Homo sapiens: one gene and its partner. The protein of the gene in region 1 interacts with the protein of each later gene in a biochemical or structural test. Each region holds a gene or a part of one and is shown on either strand. Other genes may lie near its edges. The genes, in order: MPV17 and PEX5.

Region 1 (4,421 bases):
CAGGCACCATGTAACAGAGGGTCTCTAGCATCCGAGTGCTTTCAGACCACAAATGGCTGGCCCATCTGCTTTTGAGTTTGCCAAAGTAGTTTAGCAAAGTTCAGTTTCTCTCCTGGGAATCATAGCAGCAGTGTAACTCTGCCCATGAGCAGCAAAGAAATATGGGTTCAAGTTTCTGCTAACTCCTGGTGTGGACAGGTCACCTCCCTCCTACCAACCTCAGGGTCCTCATTTGTAAGACTGGGCTTGGCCAGGCGCGGTGGCTCACGCCTGTAATCCCAACACTTTGGGAGGCCGAGGCAGGCGGATCACGAGGTCAGTAGTTTGAAACCAGCCTGGCCAATATGGCGAAACCCCATCTCTACTAAAAATACAAAAATTAGCCGGGCGTGGCGGTATGCGCCTGTGGTCCCAGCTACTCAGGAGGCTGAGGCAGGAGAACTGCTTGAACCCAGGAGGCGGAAGCTGCAGTGAGGCAAGATCGCGCCACTGCACTCCAGCCTGGGAGACAGAGCAAGACCCTGTCTCAAAAAAAAAAAAAAAAAAAAAAAAAAAAATTGGGCTTGGTGGTCTCTTGGCTTCTTTCCAGCTCTAGAAATGACTCCCCAATAGTTTTCTGCTTAAAAACTTACTCATTACCACTGCAGATTCCGGATTACATATTTAATAACATATTTACTGAGGCACCATATAAAGGGTTCCGGGAGTCTCTAAAGAGCTGGAGCTACAAGAAGCCTAGGCAGGGTTAGAGTAACAAATGTGTCTATGAAGAGTGGGGATGAGTGGCATTTGCTGGGATATGGGTGTAAAGTTGATAAGGTCATGAAGGTTCAACAGATATTTATGGAGTGCCTAGTATGTGGTGGGAATAAGACTATTATCAAGGGCTCTAAAGCAGTCAGTGTACATTTTAGAGTGAAGAGGGGCATTGCAGGGTGCTAGTCCTCTTAAGCTCTGACCGGCAACCCAACCCCGTGGAAACTGGTATGCCCACTTTGAGGAGGTTGTCTGACCGTTCCAGGGTCAAGCTGCATCACTGCAAGGTGGAAACGATGGAGTGAGGCAGGCTTAGAGCCGATGTGCCTTCCAGGACAGGTAGGAGTTCCAGATAACAGCAACACATTGGACAACGGCCAACCTAAGGAACAGGAATAACACAATGAAGAGGAGGAAGGCTAAGCAGTGAGCAAGGGCTGGAGATGGGAGCATGAAATGGCAAAGGAGGGATCATGACAAAGGATTGGCAGGTTTAGGTCTCTTTCCTTCAGCACCTTTTTTTTGAGATGGAGTCTCCTCTGTTGCCCAGGCTGGAGTGCAGTAGCACAATCTTGGCTCACTGCCTCCCGGGTTCAATCAATTCTCGTGCCTCAGCCTCCCAAGTAGCTGGGACTACAGGTGTGCTCCACCACACCTGGCTAATTTTTGTATTTTTAGGAGAGACAGGGTTTCACCATGTTGGCCAGGCTGGTCTCGAACTCCTGACCTCAAGTGAGCCACCCACCTCGGCCTCCCAAAGTGCTGGGATTACAGGTGTGAGCCACGACACCCAGCCCTTTCAGCACCCTATGAAGGGCCTGTGTGGCTTGCACTAAAGGACAACTGGCTCAAATTCTAGTGCCATCCCAGAGCTCTGTTTCCTGGCTGAGAGCCTCAAAGGCTAAATATTCAGCGGCTCTCTTGCCATGCATAGCTCTGTTAATCACAGAAAGGGCCCCTATCTGGGCCCCTTCTAAGTTCATTGATCTGTCTTGTACCAGCTGAGATTTCATCTTCCGAAATGTACGGACTATCATATAAAGTAGCATCTTTCTGTTTTAAATTAACCTTGCTCTGGTTTCAAAGAGTGTTGCAAAGGACCCTAATGTTTAGGATTTGGTTCATAAGTCTGTATTCCTTTTTTGTTTTTTCGGGTTTTTTTTGAGACGGAGTCTCGCTCTGTTGCCCAGGCTGGAGTGCGGTGGCAAGATCTTGGCTCACTGCAACCTCCGCCTCCCAGGTTCAAGCGATTCTCCTCCCTCAGCCTCCCGAGTAGCTGGGACTACAGGCACCTGCCACCACACCCAGCTAATTTTTGTATTTTTAGTAGAGACAGGGTTTCAACATATTGGCCAGGCTGGTCTCGAATTCCTGACCTTGTGATCCACCTGCCTCAGCCTCCCAAAGTGTTGGGATTACAGGCGTGAGCCACTGTGTCCAGCCTTTTTTTTTTTTTTTTTTTTTTTTTTTTTTGGAGACAGGGTCGTCTCACTCTGTCACCAGGCTGAAATGCAGTGGCACAATCTCAGTTCACAGCAACCTCCATCTCACAGGCTCAAGTGATCCTCCCACCTCAGCCTCCCGAGTAGCTGGGACTACGGGCACATGTTACCATGTGACTGGCTAATTTTTTGTATTTTCTGTAGAGATGAGGTCTCACTATATTGCCCAGGCTGGTGTGAAACTCCTGGACTCAAGCAAACCTCTTGCCTCAGCCTCCCAAAGTGCTAGAATTACAGGTGTGAGCCACCGTGCCCAGCCAGTCTGTATTCGTTTTAGCTATGCTACTCATGTACATTTTGGCCCTGTTCCCTCTGAAGCGTTCCATATTTTCCCCTGTTCCCACGATCCTTCACCTTCAAGCATTTGAACCACACATCTTCAGTGCCACTATCTTTTTGGGTGCAGTTCAGCAACTGTCTTTATTGTGAGTGTCTGACCAGGCTCCTACTTGGCCTTCTGGTCTACCTCTCTGTCTAACCTAGGCTGCAGCACCCCAGCCACTGTCCCTCCAGATATGCCATCAAAGACGGAGCTCAGGTGGGATGGAGACAAGGGTGGTAGAAGCAGGATCCTCCCTAGGGAGATGAAGAAGGTCAGTGGGCAGACACTCTGGGACAGTTTCCGGAAATGGCAAGACATTCTGAATAACACGCTTGGGAATCTGAGGAACTCTGATCACGGCTCAGTGTTCCGTTTGGGGGTCTAAGGTAGCTCAAGGTTGAAATGAGAATCATTTTGTCTCCAACTGTTGGTAACGTGGGTCTTCCTTGATGGGTGGGGTAGGGGTGCAACATACCTGTAATGAAGGGGGACCAGGTAGAAGTTGGCTAACTGCACAGCAGGCCATAGCTGCAAGAGAAAATGTAAAGGTTGGATGGCTGCCCCACCACCTGACCCCAGACTCACTGTCTTGCCTGGCCCTACCCCAACTTCTGCACACAAGAAAAAGGTGAACAGTTGGGTGATGGCTTCCCTATTTATGGTGCCCATCCTGGGAATGAAAGAGTAATCCCAACGGAAGGGTTTCCCATGTCAGGAGGACCCCCCAATCCCAGGACAGTTCTAGACTTAAGGAAGCAGGAGAACAAGCAGTTGAGGTGTCAGCTCTTACATAGTAGTTGGTGATAAGGGCATCAGGATAATCCTGGGGAGACAGAGAAGGAACAAATTAACACTTGCGCCTCCAAGCAGCTCCCACTTCCCAGTATGAATGTCACACACAGACTTGGGTTCAAAGAGCACATTCCTGCACCATAACCCTCAGCTCCTCTCCTCCATGGCCTGGGGCCCTACCTGCACTTACCCCCTTTTTTATCCCTGTAAAACCTGTCTTCTTCCCCTGGGCTGTCAGCCCGCCAGCCAGAGACATTCTCCACACCTGCCCAGCTCACCCGCTGTAGTTTGGCCCAGTTGTCCTGGGCTGACAGTCCATTAAGTGCCCCTACCAGTGGGAGAAAGCAGCCTAGAAAACACGGGGCAAAGCCCCCCTAGGGAAGAGAAATTAAAGTCCTATGAGTGCTGAAATCCCCACCTACCCCCAACACAGCTCACCCTCCCCACTCTGTTCTCCTGCTCACCTGATCCAACAACATCTTCTTCAGTGCATCCACTTTGGTGGTGCCAGGGATGAACCGATCCAAAACCTTGTACCAGCCTCCTACCACAGGGCCCTGGAAGTAAACCCCAGATAGCAGCAGGCTGCAGTGAGGGAGCCCTAGGCCTCTACCTCACTAAGCTCCCTGCCCCAAGTATCAGAATAGGGGAAGTGGACACTAAGAAAAAAGAGGGCGGCAGGTTGGCTTAGGTGTGAGAGTCCAAGGGAAGCCAAAGGATGGCAAAGAACTAAGACCACTGTTGAGTCCACTGAAGCCCTGTTGAGGGGAGAACTTACCACAAAGCCACAGCCCAGGGACACCATGGTCAGAGTCCGGCCTCTCTGGTGTTCCTGCAGACCCCGCCTCTCCACCAGCTGCTGTGAGATAATGTCACCCAGGCCCATCAGGGACCCTATGCAGGGTACACAGGTGTTGTCAGGACATCTCCTGGGATGGGCTGCCATTCCAAGGAGGGAGGGACATCTGCTGACCTCCACTGAGGCTCTGGTACTCTGAACCCCAGGGCTTCATTGTGGAAACAAATGACTAGTCCCTTCCTGCTGCCTC
Region 2 (3,815 bases), on another chromosome or scaffold:
AGCTTTCCTCTTCCTGATTGCTCTCAAAAGTTAGCCTTTTTCCTGTTTAAGATATCAAGAATAACAAGAGATACACATAGAGAAAGTTACCAAGTTCCAGGATCTCGGGGAGTCACATCATCATGGTTCCTGAATTTTTCTGAGATGATTAAAGGGACTGAATTGGTTTCTACCCCCACCATTTTAATTTATGTTCTTTCTTCGTTTGCTACAGATTTCAAGGTCTCAAGTCTAATTTTCCTTGAGAGCATCCATTGCTCCTCGCATCCTTTAGGATTGATTCTTCTTACCCGAAGCCTATCTGATCAGGGACAAATGTGTGTGAAGGAGGCCCATGTTTAGGATGGGCTTCTCCGCACACAAGAGAAAAATCCCAAATCTAAAAACTAAAACTCACCTTTAATAAGATCTGTGGGTCTCTTTTATCACGTGTCTCTTTCCCACCCATAAGTTGGAGTTAAGGTAGAACAGTAGGTGCTCTTGGCTTTAAGAGTGCTAATCACTTTATCTTCTTAAGCTCATTAGAACTTCACAGTAACAGTAACACAAGGTGGATATCCCACCCCCATTTTATAGATGAGGAGACTGAGATTTGGAAAAGTTAAATACTTTGTGCAAAATCATTGAATAATAGAGATGATATTCAAACTCATGTCTGTGTGGCTCTTGAGATTCTTTTTTTTTTTTTTTTTTTGAGACAGGGTCTTGCTCTCACCCAGGGTGGAGTGCAGCGGTGCAATCTGTACGCACTGCAACCTCTGCCTCCTGGCTTCAAGGGATTCTCCCGTTTCAGCCTCCTGAGTAGCTGGGACTACAGGCGTGTGCCACCATGCCCGGCTAATTTTGGTATTTTTAGTAGAGACAGGGTTTCACCATGTTGGCCAGGCTGGTCTTGAACTCCTGACCTTAAGTAATCCACCACAGCCTCCCAAAGTGCTGGGATTACAAGCGTGAGCCACCGCACGCGCCCTCACGTTGAGATTCTTTGTGAAATTGCCGCAAGTTAAAATCTGAACCATAGCAAAGACCCTCTCCAAGACAGAAACTCAGTTTTTCACATAAACCTTAGACTTAAGTGCTATCTCTTATCACAGAGAGGCTTCTGTTGTAATGTGGGCATTAGTCATTTTTGATAATTCAGAAAAATCATTGCTACTATGAGCGTTGAGATGGATGAAATTTTTGCTGTAATTACCTGAATTGCATGCAGCCATTGAAATCTTCCTTAACTTGAAATGAAAAAGAACTTTAGAAAAACATGTTTTATCTGTCTCACCAGTTAAATGCTCTTAGTAGAGCTCTTCTAGTATTTTGTAGATTCTTTTGGAATCGTGCCTGTTTCACAGAGGCAGAGACATGCAAACCTTAGAATGGGAGTTGAGCTGTTTGAAGTCTGCCTTCATAAAAATGTCTTATTGCAGCAGTATATTGCTTTGCATGTAGTAGGCCTCTGGTATTGAATGAATGAATTGAGATCTGGGAGAAAAAGCTAAAGGAAAGGAGTTCATTTTGTCGTAACTGACTTTTTTTTATTATCCTTCATTTTTAATTACAGCATTTGTGGTTGATACAATTGTATGGGTTAGCTATGGCTTTATAGATAAGTAGATTTTGAGATGAAAGAAGGTTATACTTTTTAAGTTCTTATTTTAAAATCTCCACTGTTAAGAGTCAAAATCAAGTTTAAAAAGAATGTTGCAGCTCAATTATTTAAATTTAAATTTTTTATTTGGAAGTACTTAGTTTCACTGGAAGTTGAAAAAAAAAATGTATAGGAAGGTTCTGTATACCCTTCACCCAGTCTCCTCCAGTGGTAACATTTTACATAGCAGTTATGCAGAGATCAAAAATCAAGAAGTTGCCCTTGTTTCAATCCTCAGAGTTTATTAGGTTTCACCAGTTTTACATGCCCTTATTTGTGTGTGTGTGTTTTTTGCAATTTTATTAAATGTGTAGATTTGTGTAAGCACCATCATGATCAAGATACAGAACTATTCTCTCACCACATGAAGTTCATTTTTTTAGCTTACCTTATTTTGTAATGGAATCCCCCCGTCTTAAATCTTCTGGGTCAAATAATTCTCCATCTTGTGTTTGCTCAGATCTAGAGATAAAACACATCTTCAGGGTTCTTAAATTTAGACAGCTTCGGTTGACATGGTATGTGAGGTTCATATGATAATCGTGAGAGATAAACCTGCACTTTCATGGGAAAAGCCATGGATAGCAGTAGCAGAAGATAATTGGCAACAGATCTTTTCTGGATGTTGGAGGAGAGGCTTTGGAATAACAGTCTCATTGTGATGTTTTCTGCTTTTGTTATAGGTTTGCCATGAGCAGACTAATGATAATAACTAACATTTGTTACTGTATTCATTGGTTTTCACCGCAGCCCCTACTGTTATCTCTGCTTTAAAGATAAGGACATGGAAACTTAAGAAGGTTGAGTAACTAGTCTGAAGATGCACAGTGAATAAGTGATGGAGTTAGGATTTAAATGTGGGTAGACTGACCCTACAACTTGTATTCTTCTCCACAGTGCTGCTATTTAGCAGACACAGAAACTTTCATGAGTAAGAGTAGCAAGTTCTGAGTTTTTGACTTTTGAGCTTGGGGAAGATGTGCCTAGAAGGAATGAGTAAACAACGAGAAATTATATGAGGTGCACATTTTGAGTGGGGTATTTGGTGTCTAGGTTATTCTCACTCTACTAATCTGTATGACCTCAGGCAGTGCATCCCCTCTGTAGACCTTAGTTGCCTTGATCTCAGATGTATCCACATGGATCTGATTTTCTGTAGGAATTTCTCAAAGATTGTGAAGGCAGTGTGTTACTCTTTTGATTCTTTCGGTTATTTGACTCTTGTTGGAGTAGGTTCCCAATGCCAAGAAATTCTGGGTCTTGTGGCGATTTAATCTGGCCAACTACCAAATTATAGGTATTTGAGGATAGTTTTTCTCAGCTCTGGGATTTTTTTTCTTAAACTGCCTCATATCTATTGTTAAGTCCTCATGTCTGTTGTAAAAATTCAAAGGTGCTTTGTGTTTTTTCTGTTTTTTTTTTTTTGTCCTTGAGAGGACCATTTCATAGGAATTTGAAATGTTTTCTGTGAATTTGAGGAGCACTTATGGCCAGAATATGCTTTTGCAAAATACTCTAGTTGAGAGTTAGAAGTGTTTGGAGAGTTGAGGAGGTAGTAGTTATTTTTCAACAGAATGGAGCTAAGAATTTCAACTAAGAATGGAACTAAGGAACTAGGAGATCTTAAAGTCTCTTTGAGTATTAAGCATCTCCTTTCCGTCTCCACACTTGAGGCAACAGTCTAATTGGGGCAAATGGAAGAGAAATGCTTCCTGTAAGAGCTAGTGAGCAGAATCTGTATTTAATTTTTGAGAGTCCTTGAAATTAACAGATGGATCTATGGTCAAAAAAAATTGCCAACCATATTTCTTATTACATTATACATTATATATTATATATATTATATATACATTTTACATTATATATAATGTATATATAATGTATTTCTTATGTTATAACGTATTTCTTATTACATTATGTTATATATAATGTATTTCTTATTACATATGTTACATATAATGTATTTATTACATTATATATTATATATAATGTAATATATGTTATGTAATAATTATATATGTCATATATAATTTAATTATATGTCATATTTAATTATATATGTCATAATTTATATATGTCATATATAATTTAATTATATGTCATATATAATTTAATTATATATGTCATAATTTATATATGTCATATATAATTTAATTATATATGACATATATAA

Evidence for each region.
Region 2: the proteins of MPV17 (region 1) and PEX5 interact in a test that uses a peptide from one of them, tested with the Homo sapiens proteins (one large-scale study listed by BioGRID).

What each region holds. Positions count from the first base shown.
Region 1 is NC_000002.12:27,308,844-27,313,264, forward strand, and holds the end of MPV17 (mitochondrial inner membrane protein Mpv17), read right to left. Parts: intron 4,267-4,421; coding exon 4,151-4,266; intron 3,930-4,150; coding exon 3,837-3,929; intron 3,747-3,836; coding exon 3,651-3,746; intron 3,404-3,650; coding exon 3,371-3,403; intron 3,109-3,370; coding exon 3,056-3,108; intron 1,139-3,055; coding exon 1,069-1,138; 3' UTR 649-1,068; downstream 1-648. UniProt on the Homo sapiens protein: Non-selective channel that modulates the membrane potential under normal conditions and oxidative stress, and is involved in mitochondrial homeostasis.
Region 2 is NC_000012.12:7,192,560-7,196,374, forward strand, and holds part of PEX5 (peroxisomal biogenesis factor 5), read left to right. Parts: intron 1-3,815.